Regions from separate parts of the Homo sapiens genome. Here all the other regions are linked to region 2. The links come from fine-mapping of genetic effects on gene expression. A gene starts in region 2. Each other region holds a variant in brackets. All regions are shown on one strand. Distances are from middle to middle.

What was found. PIP is the estimated chance that this variant, and not a neighbour inherited with it, causes the effect. A credible set is the group of variants that fine-mapping cannot tell apart.
Region 1: its variant is the best candidate, but not a certain one, in a credible set for the expression of TMEM182 in atrial appendage (GTEx, PIP 0.64).
Region 3: its variant is the best candidate, but not a certain one, in a credible set for the expression of TMEM182 in left ventricle (GTEx, PIP 0.54).

Annotation. Positions count from the first base shown.
Region 1 is chr2:103,107,482-103,115,672 of GRCh38, reverse strand. No RefSeq gene overlaps it. Among named protein-coding and RNA genes, the nearest start is that of LINC01935, 130 kb to the right of the region's middle. The variant T/C (reference allele first, on the strand shown) is at 3,961.
Region 2 is chr2:102,757,727-102,765,917 of GRCh38, reverse strand. It overlaps TMEM182 (transmembrane protein 182), which reads right to left and starts at 3,887. Exons shown (of 5, transcript NM_144632.5): 1 at 3,569-3,887; 2 at 3,232-3,331; 3 at 1,491-1,589. The coding sequence starts at 3,700.
Region 3 is chr2:102,845,487-102,853,677 of GRCh38, reverse strand. No RefSeq gene overlaps it. Among named protein-coding and RNA genes, the nearest start is that of LINC01796, 46 kb to the left of the region's middle. The variant C/TC (reference allele first, on the strand shown) is at 4,313.

The sequences.
Region 1 (8,191 bases), 350 kb before region 2:
TTTGCTAAACCTTTGTTATTGAATCTTTGTCAAAAAAAGTTAATAATATTATTTTAGCTTACTATGAGAATCAAAGTAGATAATGTATTTTTAGTGGGGTTTGTGTGCAAAATATTCTAAAAATGCCATAGGTTAAAGCATTCATGAGTATTTTTTATAATTGAATGTATCTAATTATTTTTCGTGCTATCTGTATTTTCAGGTTGTTCTATTTCTTGTTAGAATACTCCTTAAACTTACTAAAGCTACATAAAACAATTGTTCTAAAATTGCTTCTTCAGTTTCTTTTTTGAATCATAGATCATTGGTCAGAAATCTTCAGGCAATGTCTATAGTGACTATTTCATGAAATATACAAAATAACCCTCTAGATCTATTTTATTGGAAATATATTTATATTTTCTATAAATCTAAGTACAATGTCAATATAAAATATGATTATCTACTAAATAAACCAATCAGAACCTAAAATAAAAGTAAATACTGTCCTAACAATAAACTTTTTGGCAGATCATACACTTTCTGTAATAAGGCTTTTGCTCAGAACACATTGAAAGCCCTATTTTTTTTTTTTTGGATGTGGTTTTATATATTATCTGTAGCCTTGTCATGCTATAGTTACAGTGTATTTTTGACTCAGAAGAGAATCAGTTAGCCTGGTTATTACATTTATTTACCAAGATTAAATGACATTTCACTGTTTAAAATGAATTTAATTCACACTCAAATATACATTTGTTATCAATGAAAATGTTTTAAAGAATGTACAACTAACTCTAAGAGGAATCTCCAAAGAAAATTTCCAAAAAGATTTCTTTGAACAGTGGCACACATTTGAAAGGCCTTGAGAGCCCAGATAAACAGATGAGTTGGCACAATGGAAAGTTTAACAGTAACTTTAAGTAATTCTTCAGTATTTATTTAGAGATGGTATTGGCACTTCATGGGAAAGTTCTCCTCTTTTCCTCATCTCAGCACTGTTTGTCTATTTAGCAAAAGAAAGTTTCATGGTAAACAGAACCAGCCCTCCTTAGATGACAGCTGGTGACCATTCATTGGACAAGATCATGGATTCTGTAACATGTCAACATCCTCCATTCAATCACAAGAGATTTATTCTTCCCAACTGAAACAAACATATTAGGGCTTCTGGTAAACACAATTTTCTCCATCCTGTTATATTTCCTGGAAAGTTTCAGTATCTCTTATGTTTTGTTCTCAGGTTGACATGTTGTTTGTGTAGCTGTTTAGATATATGAATTCTGATGTGCTACATACAATTGATCATACTACTTTCTTTTTTATGGTCACAGTTTACACCTCCAAAAAGAGTTAACTTATGTTAACTCAGAGGTAGTTAAGGAGATATTCAAAGTGGTGAATATGCCCTTTCTTCCTTTGGAAGTAGACGCCATTCTCTGCTCTTCCATGTTACCCATAGAGCAGCCTCGGATGGAAATGAGATGAACTAGAAACTGACAAGGTTGACCTAAGGAACAATGGCTTTGATTTAGTTAAGTAGCTAAGTAGATCCCAAAGACGTATCAGCTAAATGATCCACTTCCTTTATGACTATGCATCTTTACTAAAATATATTTTTAAATGATAGTTTATATTACTACAGAAAAATGATGTGTCCCCTAAAATGTAACTTTTATGACAGCATGCACGTTGAGAGTCAGTAATGATTTGTTGAATGAAAGCAAATGTGAGCCCAAAGGAATCTGGGTATAATTGATCTGATCATGAGATTATGCTTTAAAGCGGATGAGTAAGAAGTAATAATCTAACACATAATGTGCTTAGTCAGATGAATCTGTTTTTCAAAGTAAAGATAAAAGGAAGAAATTTGAGCATGGTTTATGGGAAAAATATTTAACAAGCCATTAAACTATCAATTATCCTAAGAAATAGTTGAAACAAGTATGACTATGATTAAGTTATTTTTGTTACTAATATCAGAATATCATATTTGAAAAAGAATATGTTATAAAAGCTTAAAATCTTCCCATTTCAAAACTTTACTCATTACATCCAATCAAAAATCACAGCCAAAAAAAATTGTACTGTGTCCTTCAAATTAATCACCGAAGTTTCTGATTATTTCATAAACTCCTATCTTGTCAATAACAAGTTTCTTGACATTAAATCATGTGGGTGCTTGTAAAATTGTTTTACAAATATTAAGAAGATTAAATAAAAAATGAATCAAGAAACATAATTTGCTAGAATGTTCTTCATGTACACAATCAAGTAGGAATATTTTGTAGCCTTTATACGGATGTTGTCTATTAGAAATAAATTATATAATCATGCTGCTAGATAGATAGGCAATAATGAATTAGATTGCTAAGATATGTAATTGGGCTCTTGGAATGCATGTTTGATTGCCCTGAAAAAGTGCACAAAATAATTTCCCTTAATTGCTTTTATTTCATTTCTTGTCAAACCTAAGTTAGGGTGTTGCTTTAAGGTAAGAAACTACTTACTTTTTGTAGGAAAATAATCTCACCAATTTGGAGGTTGTACCAATCTTGCCTTGCAAGTTGTACCTATGAGAGTTTCAGTCCAAACCTCAAGACAAGTATGCATAACTCAGGTTTCAAACATTACTTATTAGGACCAGTCAGTGGCTTCTTCATTTCTTACCCACTAGAGGCAAAACTAGGGTTTGAAGGTGTATCCATCTTTAAAGAATATAAGCACTCTAAACCTATCGTCTGGCAAAGGGCATTTGGAAATGCTAAAAGGTGAAAACAGTTGTCCCCAATCTCCTGACTTTGGAAAACATGTTGAAATTCGAAGTTACATAATAAGAATCCATCACCCTTTAATTTGGCAGCAAAGATTCCTTTGCTGTGCGAGTTAGCAGATAGCTGAGAAATACTAAAACTTCATTAACTAAATAAGCACAGATAAGTGTTATTTGATTCTGTAATGTTGGAAGTGAAATAACAATGCTTGTTATAGATCTGAAGTTAATTTGTTATGATCAAAACCAAGGATTTGCTAAAAAGGTTACTTTTAGCTACAAGTTCTAAACCTTTAATATCCAATACATACAAGTATATTAGAGTAAACTAAGAAACTTTATAAAAAGAATAAGGGATAATGATTGGGGAAATGTACCTTTTAAATCAGTAGTTTTAATCAATTATCAATATTCTGTTATAGGTAAAATATATTCTCTTTCCTGAAGAGATGACAGAATTTTTACAATTAGGCTACAGTGCAATCATTTTTGTGCTCAGTATGGACTTTAAACACATCACTCATCCATTACCTTTCTATCCCATTGTTCTTCTAAGACATTGACCATATGATGCTTTTCAAATTGTCATCATCTACAATGTTGAGATCTGCCAAACAGCAAATCAACCTTTATAATTAAAGTTGACAAGCTGACAAGAAAAATGAGTGTATACTTGCATATATATATAAATTTTTATGTCACATTGCCGTCTGTGCACTTGTTTGCTTTTTGTCAATAGCCGAAGGCTCGTTTCTCTGCACCAGAAGCGTGTTATATTCCAAGGTCCTCAGACAGCTCCCCTTCGCCCTAGTGAGTCTGTTGATTAATTTTGGATACTCTTCTTAATTAACACCCCAAAGGATGTCTAGATTATCTAGCCTATAGTCCATGAAAAACAAGTGAATCTGAAGAATAATAACCCAGGGAGACAAGCATGCACTCTTCAAATGATGTTATAAGAACATCGAGTCTCTCTCAAGTCAAGATTGTGTCAGGCAATGCCTAGGGAAGATGCAGGCCTTTAATCGGGGCAAAAATAGAAATTCGTGTTAGTCTAATTTAATTTTCTTTTTGACAAGGAGAGGAGTGATAGATGCCCCTTGACAGATGAAACATGGCGCCTCAATGTAGCCATGGTTGCCATTGGCCTTGATTAGTAACTGGTCCCATTTTGACCTCCAGGCAGAAGAGTTGATGAATGAGAGAAA[T/C]GAGTGAAGTAATTAGAACAGTAAGATCAAGTATGAAACTAGCCATTTGTATCCAAATCTGTGAAACCTAATAATGGAACCAAGAAACACTAAGCTCATGGCAGCTTCCATAAATATGTCTAAAGACTGGAATCCTTTATATGTGAGGGTCACAATTAATCAACTCTGACAATACTAGTTTCACAAACAAATTTGAGTTCATGTTTTTAAATTACCTTTTCTAAGGAGCAATTTTATAAAAATTTTTTGTTAAACCAACTGTTGCATCTATCAAAGATGCTAGGACCCACAATCTTTTAATTTCTGGGCCATCAAGAACAAGTTAAAAAAAATCCATCATGACTTTTCTAGCAACAAAGCTAGAAAATCAAGCTGACCTAGATACCTAGTAAAAATCATCTCAAATAAATAGTATGATAACTAAAATTTTCACTGACTACCATTCTAGACCACCTGACTTTGCATAGTGTAGTTAGGGAGCGTTTTTGAAGCTGAGTCATCTAATTGCTACTGTTGTGCTGGTTGAACTCAGCACTGAGAAGCTCCACATTTAGAAAAGCATATGCCATCCTATCTGTTCCTTTTCAAAAGAGAAAAAATATCTTCATGTTGATACTATATATTCCATTTTTACTCGTACTAACAAAATGCTGAAGTTGTTTTCTCCTCATCATTTGGATGTTTAAAACCTCTAACCTGCAAAAGTCTGTTAAGTAGTCTATTTTTAACACTTTGCCTTGATGAAATATGGATGCATTTTATTGCATTTCTTAATCTCAAATAAGAATGAACAGCCAGAACTTAAAGTCACTTTTAAGCATGTTACCATTTCAAGGCAGCAATTTTTTTTTTCAAAAAAGAAGAAAAGTAATTGTAAATATAGTCATTCTTCAATTTGAAATATGAATGCCTACTTTTATTCAATCAGTCAGTTAGGCAGCAAGTAATTACTGAGTGCTTCCTGAATCAAATACTGTAAAAAGTACTATGCCTGCGAAATGAATATAGCAGCTCACAAAATGGCTGCAAACTTCCCCTGTTCCTGTATGTACACCTTGCAAGTTGATGTTGCCACTTTTCTCATAAAATGGTGCAGTCAGTGTATTTCTCCACCCATTAAATCTAGGCTCAGCTATGTTACTTGCTTTGGCCAATAGACCATTAGAAAGCATGAAGGAAACTGAGCCTTGAAAAGCATTTCAACATTAGTGCTTATGGAGGGAAAGTCTGGAACACCAAAGTTTGGGTGATGACAGAGGAAAGAATCCAGCGAAACAGACTGATAAAATGAGCTGTCAATCATCCTGTTTTATTTATAAAGATATTACACTAATATGAAAAATATCTGGTATAAATATGTGGATGCTATGACATCACTATACAGAGATGCAATTAAATTATTAATAAGCAATTATTGATAAACATACTAGAATACTAATCCAAATTTTGAACCTCCTTTTAGGTTTTCACCTATTAAGTGCGTACTTATACTCCCATATTACTACCAAAAGTTATTTTGAGACTACATTTGGTAATATTGCTGTATTCATTGAATAATCCACGCAGGGAAATGTATCACATTATTGAAGCTACTGGTTTCAACTGAAATGGTATATCCAAATTTATCTTTTTCAGGGCGTGGTGGCTTATGCCTGTAATCCCAGCATTTTTGGAGGCTGAGGCAGGAGGATCATCTGAGGTCAGGAGTTTGATACCACCGTGGCCAACATGGTGAATCCCTGTTTCTACTAAAAATACAAAAAATTAGCTGGGTGTGGTGGTGCATGCCTGTAGTTGCCTGATTGAGTATCCCAACACCTAACACACACATGTGCACATGCACACACACACCCATGGCAAGTGAGAGAGAGAGAACCATTTAACAATGACTGAAGATTAATTGGTCTCAGGAATTTAAAATAACTTCTGTACAGCCATTAGCTGGCTACTGAAATAACTGAGCAGAGACATCAGTGGCCACAAATGACAAATAACACAGACTTTAAAAAATTAGTTCAGAAAACTTAATAAGCAGAAAACTACAACAGGCCGAGCGTGGTGGCTCACACCTATAATCCCAGCACTTTGGGGAGGCTGAGGTGGTCAGATGAAAAGGTCAGGAGATCGAGAACATCTTGGCCAACATGGTGAAACCCCGTCTCTACTGAAAATAGAAAAATTAGCAGGACGTGGTGGCAGGTGCCTGTAGTCCCAGCTACTCTGGAGGCTGAGGCAGGAGAAACACTTGAACCCGGGAGGCAGAGGTTGCAGTGAACTGAGGTTGCACCACTGCACTCCAGCCTGGGCAACAAGAGCGAAACTCTGTCTAAATAAATAAATAATTTAAAAACTACAACAAAACAAACCCTGGAGAGGGGAAAAATCTGATTTTTAGAGTTACTACATTATATTACTTAAAATGTGTTTAAAAAAACAAAAAAAAAATGAAAAGAAATAAAGTTTGGCACATAAAACTGTGGCACATATGCAAGAAAAAAATCAGTCAATAGAAACTCTTTTGGGAAGTCCAGATGTTGGAGTTCTGGTACAAATATTTTAAATCCGTTATTTAGAATATGTTCAAACAACTAAAAGAAACCATTTCTAAAGAACTAAAGAAAATTATGAAAGCAATGTCTTATCATGTTAAAATATCAATGAAAATATATAAATTATTTATTCAAAAGAACCAAATGGAAATTCTGGAAATGAAAAAGAAAATAAATAAATCATGAGAAGAGCTCATAGCAGATTTGAGCAGCCCAAAGGAAAAAAATAAGTGAACTTGAAAGAGTTCGAATGAGATTATCTAGTCTGAGAAACAGAAATATAAAAGAATAGAAAAATGAACAGAGCCTCAGAGACATGTATGACAAGTTTAATTGATCATTATATACAAGAACTCCTCTGTAAGATTATGAATGGATTTCTCATCAGAAATCATGAATGCAAGAAGGCAGTGGGAAGACATATTCAAAGGCTGAAAGAAAAAGAGCATTAACCAAGAACATTGCAGCCAGCACAACTGTCCTTCAATTATAAAAGATAAATTAAGACATTTCTAAATAAACAAAAAATTGAGATAATTTGTCAGTTAGCAAATATCTCTATGTTATATGATTCCATGTATAAAAATGCCCAGTAGAGGAAAATTCATATATACAGAAATTCAATTGTTAGTTGTTTTGATGAGTGGAAGGGCTGCTAAGAAGTGGAAATGGGGAGTGGCTTCTAATGAGTATGGATATTTTTGCAGAGAGTGAGTGTGATAAATATAGTAAAAATTACTAAATCATACACTTTAAAAGTGAATTTATAGCATATGAATTACATCCAGATAAGAGAATAAATAATATAAATAAAAAAATAACAGAAATTAGGAAAGCCTTCAATGGATGCTCATTGATAGACATAAAGCAGCCAAAGAAATAATCAGTGAACTTGAAAGAAATAAACTGAAACTTCTCAAACTGAAATACTAAAGGGAAAAAAAGAGTGAGAAACATTTTTAAAAACTAAAGACAGATCAACAATATAAAATGATGTAGCATATACTTTTTTGGCATAGCAAAAGGAGAAGAAAAGAGAATAGATAGAAGAAATAGTTGAAATAGTAGTGACTAAAACTTTCCAGAATTAATGGCAAACTCCAAATCAGTTTCCAAAAGCTTAAAAACATCAAGCAAGATAAAACAGAAAAAAATGCACACACACAAACAAAAAATACCTTGCAGTATATAAGATCAATATACATAAGCCAATAAATTTTCCTAAATATAGCAATAAATAATTAGAATTTGAAATGGTAAAAATTACCATTTAAAGTAGCACCTCAAAACTGAAGTGCTTAGGTAAAAATCTTATCTAACAAAATATGCAAAGAATCTGTATGTAGAAAATTATAAAACACTTCTGAAAAAAATAAGGAACTAAATAAATGGAAGAGATATTTCATGTTCATGGATTCAATTCTTTCTAAATTATCTACAATGGAATCTCGACAAAAATCGTAGCTTTTTTTTAAATTTGACAACCTGAATTTAATATGTGTATGGAAAGGCAAAGGTACCAGAATAACCAAAAAAGCCTAAAGGAAAAGCAAAAATTATAGAACTCATATAACCCAATTTCAAGACTTACTGTAAACTACAGTTATGGAGTAGGCATGGTATTGGCCAAAGAAGAGATACATAGGTAAATTGAACAGAGCCCAGAAATAGACCAACACAGA
Region 2 (8,191 bases):
TGTATACTTCTAAGTCCATTAGACATGACACAAAGGTTTTGACAAATGTGAGTGAGGTGCCTTCTGCAGTTTTTAATGGGAAGGAGCATCCATACCACACATGTTTTCAAGGAAAATGGTCCCAGTCCTTCGAACCCAAGGAATCCTGGTGGACAAGCACAGCTGTGGGTCAGCTCACCTCTTTCCCTATCCAGACCTCATACCCTCTTTATAAGTGTCCTATTAATGATGTAATACAAGCAAATGTTACATTCTTTGACAAAACTAAAAATTATAATGTATGGAATTACATATTTAACAGGAAGATGAAAAATAGTTCCATGTAAAGATGTGTTGAGTTCTGTGATGGTTATTGTTATATATCCACTAGGTTGGATTATGGTGCCAAGTTGTTGGGTCAAATACCAGCTTAATATTGCTGTGAAGGTATTTTTAGATGCAATTAGCTTTTATAATCCCTTGACTTTGAGTAGAGCAGATTACCCCCTACCCCATACTATGAGCGGGCCTCATCCAATCAGTTGAAGATTTAAAGAGAAAAAACAGGTGTCCTGAGGAAAAAGAAAGTCAGCTTCCAGATTGCAGAAGAAAAATTCTACTGGAGTGTCCAGCCTTCAGACTGGAGATTGCAACATCAGCTCTGACCTGAATCTCCAGCCTGCCAATTGCCCTGTAGATTTCAGACTCACCAGGCCTTACAATCACTCTCTCTCACTCTCTATGTGTGTATGTGTATGTGCACATGCATATGTATATACATGTATGTGTGTATATAATATATATTTATGTGTTCTATTGTTTCTCTTTTTTCTGGAGAACCCTGACTAATATTAATTTATTGAGAACATTAAATATAATAGCTACTATTTTTGAAAAACACTTTTTTGTTCTATATATGACATTGATAGTCTGTATCAACCCTTAGCAAGTTATTACAAATTTCATGTTCTTAATGTGATTTTAAGTTAATGATATCTGTCTGTCTGTCTCCTATGGGATATTACACACACAGAGTTCAGTCATTTTGTATAAATATAGTAGCATAATTACATATTTATATCATATATATTTATTGTATACATATTATATATTTATCTGTGATATTCTCATGTGTAATGATGACATAAAGTTTTAGAAGTATGATGTATATTACAATATTCTCAACTGTAGGACTCGTTTTAGGTCTGTTAAAACCTTAAGAAGCGGTTCTTCTTAATAAATATTACTATCTTCATATGGGAAAACACATTTAAAAATACTTTTATAGGCAGCTAGTAAATTACAATGACTTTACTTTTAGATCAAAGTTATGTTCTTTAAAATTATAAATGGCACATTAAAAATAACATTTTTTAATCTAACAGATATCAAAAATATTGAAATTACAGGTCTTAAATTATTTTTTTAATTGCTCACAACAATTTTGATCTGGGCATCCTTCAGAAAGATAAGACCCTTTTAGAAGTAGGCTGAGGACAGAGGGTACTTACTAACTGCAGAGTCATAGGAGGTCGAGTTGTGCTCGCCTCTCATGAAGGGGTACGGAGACAGGTAAGCATGTGTGCAGTTCTTGGACGGTGGCTGATTGGCTAGGAAGAACAGCAAAACAATGGCACTTGTTATTGAAAAGCTCAGTCATGACTCATCCTTAATGGAACAGAAATACAGAGCACAAGGGTTACACAAGCAAAACAAAACTACTGGTTCCATCAGCAAATTCAGCGAATTGTTGTGAGGAGGAAGGCCTTCTAGGAAACTCATATCAAGATGCACATGAGACGAAGGTGGATTCATCCAGAACATCTAGCTACATGACATAATTCAATGGAATAAATGCAAATGCCCTTTATATCACCTTACGATTTAAGGTACCACATTTCATCTTTTTTCACATACTCTCCAGTACCCAACAGTGTCTAGCACACAGTAGGGAATAAAAAATAATTGTTTTAAAAATCTAATAAACTTAAGTTTAACCTTGATTAGTTCAAATTAATAAAAAAATTCTTCTATATCCATTTTATTTTAGGGAAGAATGCAAATGATAAGTTATACAATAATTCAAATAAATTTTTAATATTTGAAAACATCACAAGAAGGCACTTTTATGTTGTCTGAGAACTTAAAATTTTTATATGTACACTTTAAGGTGGACTGAAATATTGAAATATTCTTTCTTTCTCCAAGTCTTTGGCAAAATCTTCCTCTTGCACAGTCTGACTTACTTCCCTTTACTAAAGTCTAAACCATTTCCACTGGCAAGTTGTATGCTTATTCTCCTGCCCCCAAATCCACTGTAAGATAGTCTATCAGGTACTTGCCTCAAAACGCTGCTTCATCACTACTTTGTTCCTTATATATGCCAACTTATCACCAGCTTGCTTAAGTCTTCAGGGACCTCCTATTTTTATTAAATATTCCATAATCCTGACTATTATGTAAATACCATACTTTGATTTTTGATAAGAAGACTAATAATTTCAATTCTCAATAAGCTTTAGGCTAATAAACAGCCCTTTCATTGTTGAATACAATGAAATAAGCGCTAGCTATTTTCAATAAATTGATTTTCAAAGATTAATTCAATATAAAGAATAGAGTTGAACAAATGCATTATAGTTTTTAAAAGTTATGCTACCTTAAAAAAGAACTTTAAAGTTTCAATGAGAACACAAACATCAAAAGCAAGGCACTTCTTGATAGTGCCAACAAACTTGGTTAAAGCTCAAATAATATAAGCTTTCATCTGCCATGGCTGGTAATTAAGTTCCATGATTTTTTTAAAAAAAATATACTGTTAACTTTGAAGTTATGAATATAAAATAATACATCTCTATTTATGGATTTTTACATTTGAGATTTCAAGGGCTGATAGCAAAAAAATCTTATTTATTTGCAACATAGTATTCACACACTTGAAAAAATGCTATAGACAATACCTGTCCTGTTTGTTAGAGTTAGTGTATTCTAAACAGGAGCAGTGAAACAATGGATAATTCAGTTTTGCCATAAATATTCAGACTCCTGTTTTATGCTAAAAGATAAAATAATTATTCCTATAGCCATGTCTACTTACTGAAAAGGAATCTCTACATGATGAACCTTTTAAAGACATCTAATTGAGATTTTGTAACTCACAATCCAGTCCGCTAGAAGTGACATATACTATGTAAGAAACTGTTCATTTTTATTTTACAGACAAGAGGGAAAATAAAGCTAAATTGTACTTACTGTACCAGAACTTCCAAATATTGGAGTCATTCTCTTCCACAATCCCATTAAACCAACACCTCCAGAAGAACCCTTCATGGTGAAAAGTGACGTTCTCTATCTGCACAGAACAAAATGAAGTAACTTGCCATCAATACAAGAAATATAATCAAAATCATTACAGCCAGTAAATTTTTAAGGACATGTATTTTATCCCAAATAATGAAGCTCAGTAGCTTTCTACATATCTCTTCCATGAAGAAATAGACACTCCACTACTATTCTCTGATTTCAAGAGCATACATAAGGGTATCTTCATAACTACCATGTGCATCACTATTTTGAAGAAGAGACTCACATTCTTTTCACCTGAACATCTCCCCACTTCAGTTGCAAGAAGCCAATAATCCGATCCAAAAGCCACCAAAAAGAGTAACACCCCCAAAGCACCAAAGAGAGCTCCAAAGAAGATAGCGATATTTAGTCTCATTTTCAATTCACTGGTTTCCTTTTAAATAAAATATGAAATTTTAAAATGGTAAGACACCTAGTTTCTCAGAAACAACAGCAAAAAAAAAAAAAAAAGAATAATATTTTTGAGTTGGCAGAATCTTCTTGAGAAGGCTGTCCTAGCTCATGTTTTGGTGGCTTCTCGCTCACGCCCCACCGGCAGATTCATATTCCCTTTGCTCGCCCCTGGAGGAACTCCAGCCCAGCAGCTGAGAATTGCTGGCTATTTTAAGATAGTGATTGAGGAGCTGTCTTTCTCCCATGGGGATCAAAAAATAGCTGACCTTCTCTTGACTATAGAGAGAAGTATCAGGAACTGGCTCAGATTATCATTATTGCTGTTGGGTAATCCACAGAAGTAGAAAGAAGATGGAATGGTTATGAAGTCATTGAAAGCATTGGCCCCAAATCTTGTGTCTGAACAAGCTCCTCTTAGTCTAGAATGCCCATTACAATCCCAAAGACACTTAAGACTCTCTTTGAAGATATATAAATCACAGATATAAAGAACCACAAAGACCGATCTTGAACACAATTGAAGTTGTAATTAACTTAATTCCTTTTGGACTTTTTTTGTGGTAGAAAATACGTTTTTGGTCAAATAGTCTAACATAACACAGTACAGTTCACGTTTATAATCTAAACATTCAGAGGTATACTTAAAAGGTCAAGAATGTTCATGGTAACATAATTGTTGAAAGTATAAAGAAGAGCTTTTATGCAGCATACACTAGTGACATAAAAACAACACTTTCTGCAGCAGCCTCATGAGTCTTATACAAGTTATTCCAAATAATCATCCCCAAAGTGGACTGATGAAAAAAGTCTCAAAAATGTATTATTTCCTGAATTAAGATGAAATAACCTGATCGACTTCTTTTTCCTTCATTTTAAAATATCTCACTTCCTCAAAATATGAATCATACTTAATACTCACACAGACCACCTAATAGCAATGAATCTACACTTTCTTCAAGGCTTAACTCTTTACAGCTTATTTGTTTGTTTTGTTTTTCTGTCTGATATGCCAGAGGAGAGTATTTTTCTAAGTATTTGTGTGCATTTAAAATCTTGCACCGTTCCTTTGGTTATTGTTTTTATATTCTCAACAATAATCTGGAATACTTAATCTTCCAAGGGGGCATCTCAACTCTACCAGCTTTCTTCACGCCTTCTTTTTTGTGGCATGGGATAGATCCTTACAATGGATTCTGTGAGAACAAAAAGATTCTCAATAAAGATGAAGGGCCCTGTTAGGATGTAGCTATATGCAATCAGAGGTATTCAAAAGCTATGAATAAGGCCAGGCGCGGTGGCTCACACCTGTAATCCCAGCACTTTGGGAGGCCGAGGCGGGTGGAGACCAGGAGCCTAGCCAACATGGTGAAACCCCATGTCTACTAAAAATACAAAAAATTAGCTGGGCATGGTGGCGGGCCCCTGTAATCCCAGCTACTCAGGAGGCTGAGACAGAAGAAACGCTTGAACCCGGGAGGTTGAGGTTGCAGTGAGCCGAGATCGTGCCATTGCACTCCAGCCTGGGCAACAAGAGCAAAACTCTCAAAAAAAACAAAAAACAAACAAACAAAAAAAAACATGAATAGAATTCTAAGCCATATAGAATGTTACACAATCATTAAGGATTAGATTTAAGTTAAGGGGTCATCTGAGCTAATCCCTCATCTAATGCTTAAATATTTTTTATAAGACTTCCCACACCATCAAGCTATGACATTTCCAGCCTGTGGCATTTAAGGACATCAGTAACAGCCATAATAGCTCTGCCTGATTTTCTGCCAAAAGCTGCATCCTAGGAGTTTCCAGATATTTATTCTATTCTGTCCTTTGAGATTGTGAAGCACAAGTTTCAATCCTCTGTCTGTGACAGAACCTTCTGATATTTTAAAGATAGCCATCACCCACGCCTCATCAATCACACTCCTTCCCTACCCCTATATAGAGGTCTAAGCTATATTTTTCTAAGCCAAACACTCTCTTCCTTTAAACGCCTTGAGATTGGTATAACTCCAGACCTCCTCCTCTCCGTTCTGGTTTTTTCCTACAATTTTCAAGTGCTTGATTGAAGTGAGACATAGTAAAATATTCTGGGTATATTCTAGCCGTTCTTACCTGGATGCTGGCTAAGAGTAATAATGGCCTCACAACAATGTTCATGCCCTAATCCTAATCTATGAATATGTTATTTTACATGGCAATATCCTGGATTACACAAGTGGTCCCAATCTTATTACAGGAAACCTTACATGAAAACCCGGGAACCTGTCCTAGCGGAGTGGCCAGAGAGAGAAAGGTGACCACAGCAAAAGGGTCAGACAGTTGCTGGTTTCAAGACAGAGGAAGGGGACCACAAGCCAAGGAATATAGAGTGCATCTAGAAGTAGGAAGAGGAAAGAAAACAGATTCTCCCCTTGAGCCTTCAGGAAGGAATGGAGCCCTGTCCACAAATTTGAGCTCAGTGAGATCCCTGTGGAATTTCTGGCCTCTGGAACTGTGGGATAGCAAATCTGTATTGTTTTAAGCCATTACTTTGGGGACAATTTGTTATAGTAGCAATATAAACTTAATACACATGCTATTCTATAATTAATGCAATATTAGAGCAAACTAAGTTTTCTGCAGGGGAGGGGAATACATCTTCAGAAGTGCTTATTGTGGACTTTTGAGGGTCCAGGCATTTTATCAGATATTGAGGTTACAATATATAGGCCCTGACTTTGAGGAGTTCATAAGCTAGTGGGGGTAAAAAAAAGATTTGTTAGAACAAAATATATGGAGGTTTAATAATGAGCTCTGGTCATCCTGTACACATTTTACTGCTCCCCCACACGCCCCCTCCCTGGATTAGTGTGGTTGTGGTTGCAGTGGTTGTACAGTTGTGGTTGTAGGTGACAGTGTTGTTGTTTGGAAAGAAGGAGCAATCTGTTGGATAGGAAGATTTTATTTATCTTATTTATATTTCAATGGTTTATGGTTCAAATTCCATGCAATAATACTAAATCTTTAACACATGCATATATAAAAGTAGATTTTTTTTAATTAGGGGAAAAGAATATAAGACTTTGTTGTTACTATTTATCACAATTTTGGTCTTTGTCAGAGAAAAGGATCATCTTTCTGGACTAGGTTCATCAATGAATAACATTTTCTCACCATTTTTGGTTTATGAAAAATATATAAACATCACCATAAAAATGTAGCTAGAGTGTTTATAGGACAGGGAAGAGCCCGGATAAATGCCATGAAAGACCACTCCCTAGGGGGGCATTGCCTCAGGAACTAGGTATGTGTATTCAATACATTAAATCAGCCATTAATTTTATTAACTTCAGAATTTCCAACCTTTCATATGTGTTCATCTATTGAGAAAAATAGAATACTTTTGCTATCATAAAACTGAGCCATTTTAGCTTGATAATTTTCAATGCTTAGCATAGGACTTGGCACACAACAGGCACTGAAATAAAATAGAAATCAATTTGTGTTAGGAGTCTTGGCTGAGATGCAAATACATGACCTCCTGAGCAATCCAACTGGCAATCTACCCCCAAAAGAAACAGTGCTGATCTGGCCCAGCTTGGTACTTGTTAAGCTCTGGAGAGCTGGATTTTAGCAGGGTGCATGTTTCCTGTACAGATGTTTTCAAACCATCTTTTAACAAATCCTTATTAGACTTTTGCTAATGAAGACATGAAATGGAGCTTACCATGGAGGAGGTAAAAGGTGTCTTTTTTCTTCAGAAAATTGGACATTTGCCTGTCACTTGAAACTCTTCTAGTTTTCCATGATTCCTAAGGAATTTTAACAGCCATTCAGTGTTGCTTCCCCAAGTAATCTTAGAAGCCTAAGAAAATGTCCATGCACTAGGAAGGCTGTTAAGCAGCTGTGGTGTTCTTCACAAATTTACAAACTGAGACATAGGTTCTCTCTTCCCTTTCTCTCTCTTTTTTAATGAAAGGCCAGGAAAAGGGGCCTTTCAATAGAAAGGGCTGGTTAAGCCTCAACCTCAACTCCTAATAATCCTATAATAAAACGGCTCCATTGCTAGTCTATGTATCTATTCCTTATGGGAATATTGACTCTATCTTTACATTGATAAGGTTATCACACTGAGTGATATGGTTTGGATTTGTGTCCCCACCCAAATCTCATGTCAGATTGGAAGAGGGACCTGGTGGGAGGTGATTGGATTATGGGGATGGATTTCCCCCTTGCTGCTCTCATGATAGTGAGTGAGTTCTCATGAGATCTGATAGTTTTAAAGTGTGTAGCACTTCCCACTTCACTCTCTTTTTCCTGCCACATTGTGAAGAAGATGCTTGCTTCCTCTTTGCCTTCCGCCAAGATTCTAAGTTTCCTGAGGCTTCCCAGTCATGTTTCCTGTTAAGCCTGCAGTACTGTGAGTCAACTAAACCTTTTTTCTTCATAAATTACCCAGTCTCTGGTAGTTCAG
Region 3 (8,191 bases), 88 kb before region 2:
TTCAAGCAATTCTCCTGCCTCAGCTTCCCAAGTAGCTGGGATTACAGGCACTCACCACCATGCCAAGCTAATTTTTGTATTTTTAGTAGAGACAAGGTTTCACCATGTTGACCAGGCTGGTCTCAAACTCCTGACCTCAGGTGATCCACCCACCTCGGCCTACCAAAGTGTGGGATTACAGGCACCAGCCACTGTGCCCGGCCAATCTGATGGTTTTGAAACAGGGAGTTGCCCTGCACAAGCCCTCTTTCTTTCCCTGCTGCTCTCCATGTGAGACATGACTTGCTCTTCCTTGCCTTCCACCATGATTGTGAGGCTTCCCCAGCCACATGGAACTGTAAGTCCATTAAACCTTTTTAGTAAATTGCCCAGTCTCGGGTATGTCTTTATTGGCAGTGTGAAAACGAACTAATACACTTGCACTCTCCAAAGAGTGGTCTGCAGACAACCCGGTCTGCTAATTGTTATCAGTTCATGAAGAGAAAGGGGCAGAAAAACAGTTGAGAGTCAGTATTTGCAAATCTTCACAGCAACTTGACGTTGCCATGACATCTGTGTATGTGAGCAGTGGACTCCCTTGCATGAACAAGATTTAGGCTGATCTGGGTGTTGCTGAGCCAATGTACTGAGTCACATCACATGTGGCACTGCATGCTGTCAGGCACAAGAGGACACAGTGGGGCAAGGATCTATGAACCAGTGGCAATTTTAAAACCATATTTTTCACAGCAAATAATTTGAGAAGCACTGATCGTTTACCAGGGTCAGTTTATATGCTACTCTGGGTGGGGGCTCTTGTTTTCCTTTATGGAAAAAGCTACCCTCCCAGAGGCTGGTGCTTTGCAGAGTCTTGCTGCCAAGCCTGTAGACCTAGGATCCCATGCACATGCCAACTGCCCTCTGGCAAGATTATATCTATGGAGCTTGGCTTCTCCAGTGACTAACTGGACAGGAAGGAGACACAGCTTGGAAGTGGAGGGAACATCTGAGAGAGGTGGTAGGTAAATTCTTTTTTCTTTCTCTCTCCAGGTCAGCTCCACAGCACCATAACACACCCTCAGATCTGTTTGCCCTCCTTCTGGACTTCATGTTCCTTTTCCCTCACACAAGCTTCCCAGGGCTTGCATACTCCAATAAAGCATTCACATATAAGCTTTTGCCTCAGGTTCTATTTCTAGAGAACCTGAGCCAAGACATGTACTACGTAAAATGAACCTATGAATGACTATTCTAATGCTTTTGACCGGTGCTTCTCAAAGTGTGACCACCAGACCAGTAGTATCAGCATCATTCACAAATTGTTAAAAATGCAATTCTTGGGTCCCACCCAGAACCACTGAATCAGAAACTCTTGGTGTGAGCCCCATAAATCTGTGTTTTAACAAGTTCCAGATGATTCTGTTTTAAGTTTGAGAACTACTGCTTTACACTGACAATGAGAACCGGAAAATGTTCCTTCTTCTTAAAGTGTATCAATCTGCTAAATCTTAGCTCAAGACTGGACCGTTTTGTAGGCAAAATCCATTATGCTAACTTGACAGTATTATAATAGCATATATCTAGTAGCAAAATGTAACATTTTTATCTTAGTGTGAGATCAACCGAAAAAAGAATGTTGCATAGCACATTTGTTATAACTTCTATCTTTTTAAACCAAACTTTCTTTTATATATTTTTTCATAACTTAGACCCATATAGAGGAAACTTAACCCTCTAAATCATTATCCCTGCCTTTTTAGAACGGAAGCATCATTCTGTTGAGTACTTCATTTATTTTCCTCTCATTGCCTCCTTCCTGGTTGATCTACCCTCCAAAATTGCTATCTAAAGTAGTAACTACTTTGTCTCAAATAAAGCATATTAAAAGTAATGTTTAGGCTTCTGTGACATACCTGGAGATCTATAGAGCTCCCCATGGCTGTGGACATCGATGTTTGGAACCAGTACTCTGATCTACAACACAGACTGCAAATTAAAATCACCTGGGGAATTTTAAAAGCCTACTCATACATTTGGCCCAACCCAAAGAAACTGATATAGTTGGTCAGCATGTGAAACCCAGGTACTTAACATCTATTTCAGAAGACTCATACGAGTATTCTAATGTGTAGCCAGGGTTGCAAAACACTTTGAGTCCAACTGTAGCTCATAGAGTGCTTGATTTTTGCTCCTTGACCTCCTAAGCCCTGGGACAAACACACTGACTATTTCAGGTGTTTCTGCCTTTCCAAGACAACTTAAAAGGAAAGCCACCACTACAACCACCTCACAACAGTCATGAAGACTTCTAGTAAAATCACATTCCGCAAGTTGAAGCCAAAAGACAAACCAGAGTCCTTGTAAAATTACTCTCAAACTGAACCTTCAAAGGATATAGACATCTGGGTTTTGTTAAAAAATAGTTTGCAACCTTCCTATGGAATTTTCATTGTCTTAGTCCCTGCTCAAAGTTGCAGTCAGAGAAAACTTCGTCTCCAATCATCCCAGCCCAGGGACTGCAGCCGGCTGCTCTCCAAGGGCAGAAGGCAGGATGGGAAAGGTGTGCACATTGTCACAGAAGGTGAGCTCTCAGAGTCCATGCAGCTCCTCGGTGCAGTCTCGGGGCCAGGCCGGCTCTGGAGGAGCACTGTCAAGACACAGGTACTCCTGAGCCAACACCCAAGATTCCGCACACCAGCTTTTAGCCTTATCCTGTAGAGTGGCTTGTACTGAAATGTTTGTGTTTGATTCTCACTTTCTATTCCCTTAGTGAAGATCCCATTATCTCTAACAGCTGTGTGTCCAGAAAAAACATGAATTTTGTGTAACAGAAAAGAATCCCATACTTGTTTCTCCAAATAGCCTTAGGAAAAACAATTTAATCTCACTTTCTTTATTTATACTATAAAGACTTTGTGCGGAAAGGGGATAGGTACTTTAAGGTGGGAAACTTTTGAAAGAATGAATTAATCTCTATAAAACAGAAGGAAGTTTATAATTATTACTATTTTTTAACAGCCTGGACCAAAAAAATGGAACAAATGTGCCACTAAAATAGTATTTGAAATTTACCATCTCCAGATAAATTCATAAAGGGGAAGAAAACCAAAAAGGTGACACACACTGCTTGTGTAAGCTTGGAAATTGATTTCCAAAGCATCAGAGCTCACTACAAAAGAACTTCACAGTTTAATTAGGATGGCTGAAATCCAGAGTCTATATTTAGGATAAGCTGGAAATTACAGTGTAGAAATGAGAATCATCTAGCAAGAGCCGAAATGGGGAGGGAGGGTGTCTATGGAAAAATCACCACAGCATTTTTCAGCTAACCATAAAATGTCTTAACTTTGTGTTTCTCTGGACACACACTAAATAATCTCTAATGATTTTACCTTTTCAGCTGAGGAATGTGTGTTTTAAATTTGCCTTCATACATGTTACCCACATTCTCAATACCTGTATGATCTGCTTAAGTGCAGATGAATTTGGCATTTAACTCACAACATATCAAGAGAATCTCATTAAAATTCTGAATGTATATAAACATATTTTATACCATTAATATTTTGGCTTCTTATTTTTAAGTGGTTGGCAAAGTACTCATGGCACTATATCATTAATTTCTTAAATATTCCTGTTTTCTTCTCATCATTGATATATCATCAAATAAATTAGTTCATACCCAAAATGTGACAGAAAGAACCATATGATTGATTTTTTTTTTTGAATTTTTACTTCTGGAAATGTTTAAGATGATTTTGTACAAAATATATTGGCTTACAATCTAATAATTTATTAGAGGAATACACGATTATTCATGACCACAATTATGGCTTCTGGATGTTGAATGAGGGTGTTTATCTTCTTCCACTTTTTCTTCTTTATAGTGACCTGGCTCTGAATTTAAATATGCTTGTCAGTAATTTCCCTAAAAGCCGTTTAAATGGTCTAAATAATATACTCAAAATTGTTAAGAAAATAAATCGTTTTAGCAAACTGACCTCATCAGCAAAGATGCTCTAATGCACAATGACTATACAGGCAGAAAGACACAGAGAGAAATAGAATCGCAAGAGTAGAGTTTGAAATTCATTTAAATTAAAGTTACTTGCTTTGGCTGAAGGTTTAATTTTAAATTACAAGGAAGGAAATACTCCAGGTAAAATAGCTCTTACTTAATTTTAACTAACAAATTTCAGATATCCAGCTTAGAGCTTCAGTGTGCACTAGTCACCTACTAGTGAATTAATTTATCCTCATTAATTTTGCAAAAGTACACACGTGGCCCTACTCCATCATTCCAAGGCCAGGCCTCTCATTCAGTGTGATGACT[C/TC]AAATTTTAAAATGGCAAGAAATTAGCCGAATTCCAGCTCTGAAGACCCAATCTAATTAAGTTGAGTTTCCTTGCTTTTATGTTAATGCTAATTGAACAACGACTATATGACAGGTACAGCAATTCGCTCCTTTAGTCCTTATTACTTAGTGATTGTTGTTGGCATTCTACAAATGAATAAACTGAGGTTAAGTGTGATTTAGTAATTTGGTGCCACAGCCTTAATGTAGACTACACTTCTAAGCAAACATTGTCCCCGTGCTGTGCCGGTCACTGTTTTGATCTCCAAGGAGGCAGTGTCGGAAAGATGTAGATGACTGTTCCAAGACTTTCCTGACATTTGGATGAAAAAATGAGCACTGAAAGTGTCTCAGAGATTGAAGGTTAAAGTAACAGAATTGGTGGTTATCTTTTGTGAGGAAGCAGGAAAGGGGGTCGTGGCTGAAATAACAACTCGGGCTGCCATCAATTTCTATCGAATTGGCTGCTGTATGGAACATTCTGCAAATCTTACTGCTTATTTTAACTCAAATGGAAAACCCTCAGTTTTTCATCCTCAAAAAACTGTCTTATACTTTTAAACCAATGAATCCAAAGCAGAGCCAGTGATTTCTGCAGCCAGGCAGGCAAAGCCGTCAGTCACGCCCACTCCAGGTCCCAGTGGACCCAGGGAGCGGCTCCCCGGCAGGCAGAGCGGCCCCCGGGCTGGAAGCTAGTCCTTCCGCATGCGCATGCGCAGGCGCTGGTGTGGCTGGCAGGCACCGGGAAAATAGAGAACTCAGGGGAGGGGCAAGGTCCCTGGCATTGAGGAGACTCACCCAAGGAAAAGTTGTGCCTAACACTGCCACCGGGTGGTCTTTCCTGGGAGAGATTTATTAAAATAAAATAAAAAAAATCTCCTAGGAAGTTTCCCTGCTGATGATAAGAATCTAATGAAGTCTCAGATGTATCATAAGTTTGCACTCTAAATGACTCTGGAGGATCCCACCAGCCAAATCCAGAATGTGCCAATCTTCAGGACATAACCTGCTGATTTGAACAAACTGATGTTAGGAAAGAAAAAAGAATGAAACGGAGGTAGTAAGTAGAAAGACAGGCAGGAGAGGGTCACTATTTATTTCAAGACTACCTAATAGATCAATGAAATGCACTCAATGTATGGATCTTTTATGGGTCTTGATTCAAACAAACCACGATTAAAAGTTACCTTCGAGCCAATGTTGGACAATTGGTTAAGACCTGGGTAATTAGATGACATTAAGAAATTATTGTTAATTTTGCCAATAATGGTATCGAGATTAATTTTTACAATGGGGGAAGGGTTTTAGCTATGAGATAGAGAGTATCCATTGGTGAAATGATGTAGTATCAGGGATTTGCTTTAAAGTATCCCAGAAAACAGTGGGGCTGGAATAGATGAAAGGAGACTGGAAGAATGTTGATAACCTGTTGAATGTGGAGGATGAGCACATTGGGGGGGTTCTTTTCTTGTTCTTTAGGCCAAAATACAGTATTTGAAAATATCTACAATAAAGTTTCTTTGCTAAGTTGCAGGGGAAATGATTGATGACTCTAAGTTAAGTAAAATACTATATAAAGGTTGGTGCAAAAGTAATTGCAGTTTTTGTCATTACTTTCAATAGCAAAACCTGCAATTACTTTTGCACTAACCTAATATATAAAAATATTGCTTTTTTAAATCTACCTTGTGGCAGTTTCATGAGCATATCACCTTTCTCTTCACACACAGAGACACACATATTTACCATATTAGTTGTTACAAATGTCATGTGTATTGCTGTAAATAACTAGGCCTCAAATCCTACCAAAAACTTGGCTTTCGAAGTAGTAACAACTTTATTAACCAAAGCATTCACAATTCCACTTTATAAGCCTAGCAATATTAGAAATCCATTTTGTCCTCTCTGATTAAAGGCTTTTCTCAGTGAAACACTTTATACTCTCTAATTTATATATTTCCCCTTCATTCATTTCTATGACATGGAAAGATAGCCAGTATATGAAATGTCTACTTCTCTTTTTTTAAAGCTCATTCCTTGGACACATGTAAATATATGTCTCTAGTACTTGAAGGAAAACATCATTATTGTTGATAATGATACAACATAGTATCTGCATTCTGAAAGTCAAGTTGATATTCTGTATCTAAATTCCAAAAGAGTAGCACTCACACAATAAGATATTGTTTATATGCTCAGGAAATGAAGAAAATCAGAGCATTCTCATAAAATTGGGCACCAATCTGCTTTGATTTTCCGGCTTGAATTTCAAGAGTGACAACTCTGCCCATAGTGTAACCATTCATTTACAAAAAGTTCGAGATATTTTCTCCAAAGATTTGTATTAGTTTTTGATGTTCTGTTTTTTGTTTGTTTGTTTGTTTGTTTTGCTTGGGAGTGGGTGGGGTGGAACGTAAATAAACATACCAAATATGTTCGGGGCAGTGGTAACCCTCCTTGTTAATCAAGTGTTTTGTTTCTGAATCGAGACGATCACTTCAGGGGATTAAAAAGTGCTGAAAAATCATTGGATACTTTTCAATTTTCCCGTAATTACCATTTCTCTTACCCAAAAGAGGAGAGCTGGTTTTGCTTCACAGATTTCAGGGAAGTCTTCATCTCTGATCATATACTCATGCAGAGAGACTTCCACTGGCCTCTCATTAAATTACTAACTTGGTTACCAGAATAACTTATTTCATCTCTCAGTTTCCCTCATTTAAAAATGGGCGTGAATCATACCAAGGTTGTGAGGATCCAGCTGACTCTATTCCCTCAAAGTGCCCAGGGAAAAGTAAGCCTGTGAGAGCAGCAGCTAAGCCCAGCCAACAGGCAGGGCCCACTCAGCTCTCACCCCACTGCCCGCCTTCACACTCACACCCCAGATGGGACCAGTCTCTGCCCAGGGGGAAGAAACGCAGGCAAGATTATGACCTCCTCCCCGTCCATGCCTTTCTAATTCAGGGCTTCAGCATCTTCTAGTCCCTCTGCCTAGAAACCCCCCCATCAATGCAACTGGCCAGCTCCTGCTTTTTCCTCAAGCCTCTGTTAGCTGCTCGGTAACCCCACTTCTAAGAAGGTGAAGTGCCCCAAAAATCTCCTTACAATTCCTGACTTTTCAATATGTATTGTTGAACAAGAGTAGTTGTTGAATAACTAAACACCACTCTCACTGGATGGTGAGTTCCAGCAGGGCCGGGGTGCCTGTCATTTCCACTGCTATGCCCCATGTGCTTGGCACATAGGAGGTCCTGAATAAATATATGTGACAGGAGCTTGCACTCTATAGAGAACATACACAGCTTTACAGAAAGCGACAGGAGGGACAGCCAACATGCCTCACAGGAAGGTACTGGGAGGGGGTCAGTTGTCATAGGAGGCTTCCAGGAGGAAGTGTCTTTCTCCAAGTGAGCAGGCAATTGTAGATACACGGAGAGATGCAAAAAGGTAAGGGCAATCATCACTGCAATTTATTGATTGTTTACAACGTGCTCAGACTATTCTAAACAGTGAAGTGAACATGTATCATTTTTTCTAACCCTTACAGTAGTCCTGAAGAATTAGGAACTATAATAATACCCACTGTACAGGTGAAAAAACTGGGATACGGGAAAATTAAGCAGATATCCAATGTCTGGTGCTAGTGGGCAATGGAGTTATTTATTATTTATTATTCATTTATTTTGAGATGGAGTCTTGCTCTGTCACCCAGGCTGGAGTGCAGTGGCGTGATCCCGGCTCACTGCAACCTCTGCCTCCCAGGTTCAAATGATTCTCCTGCCTCAGCCTCCCGAGTAGCTGCGATTACAGGCATGTGCTACCATGCCCGGCTAATTTTTTGTATTTTTAGTAGAGATGG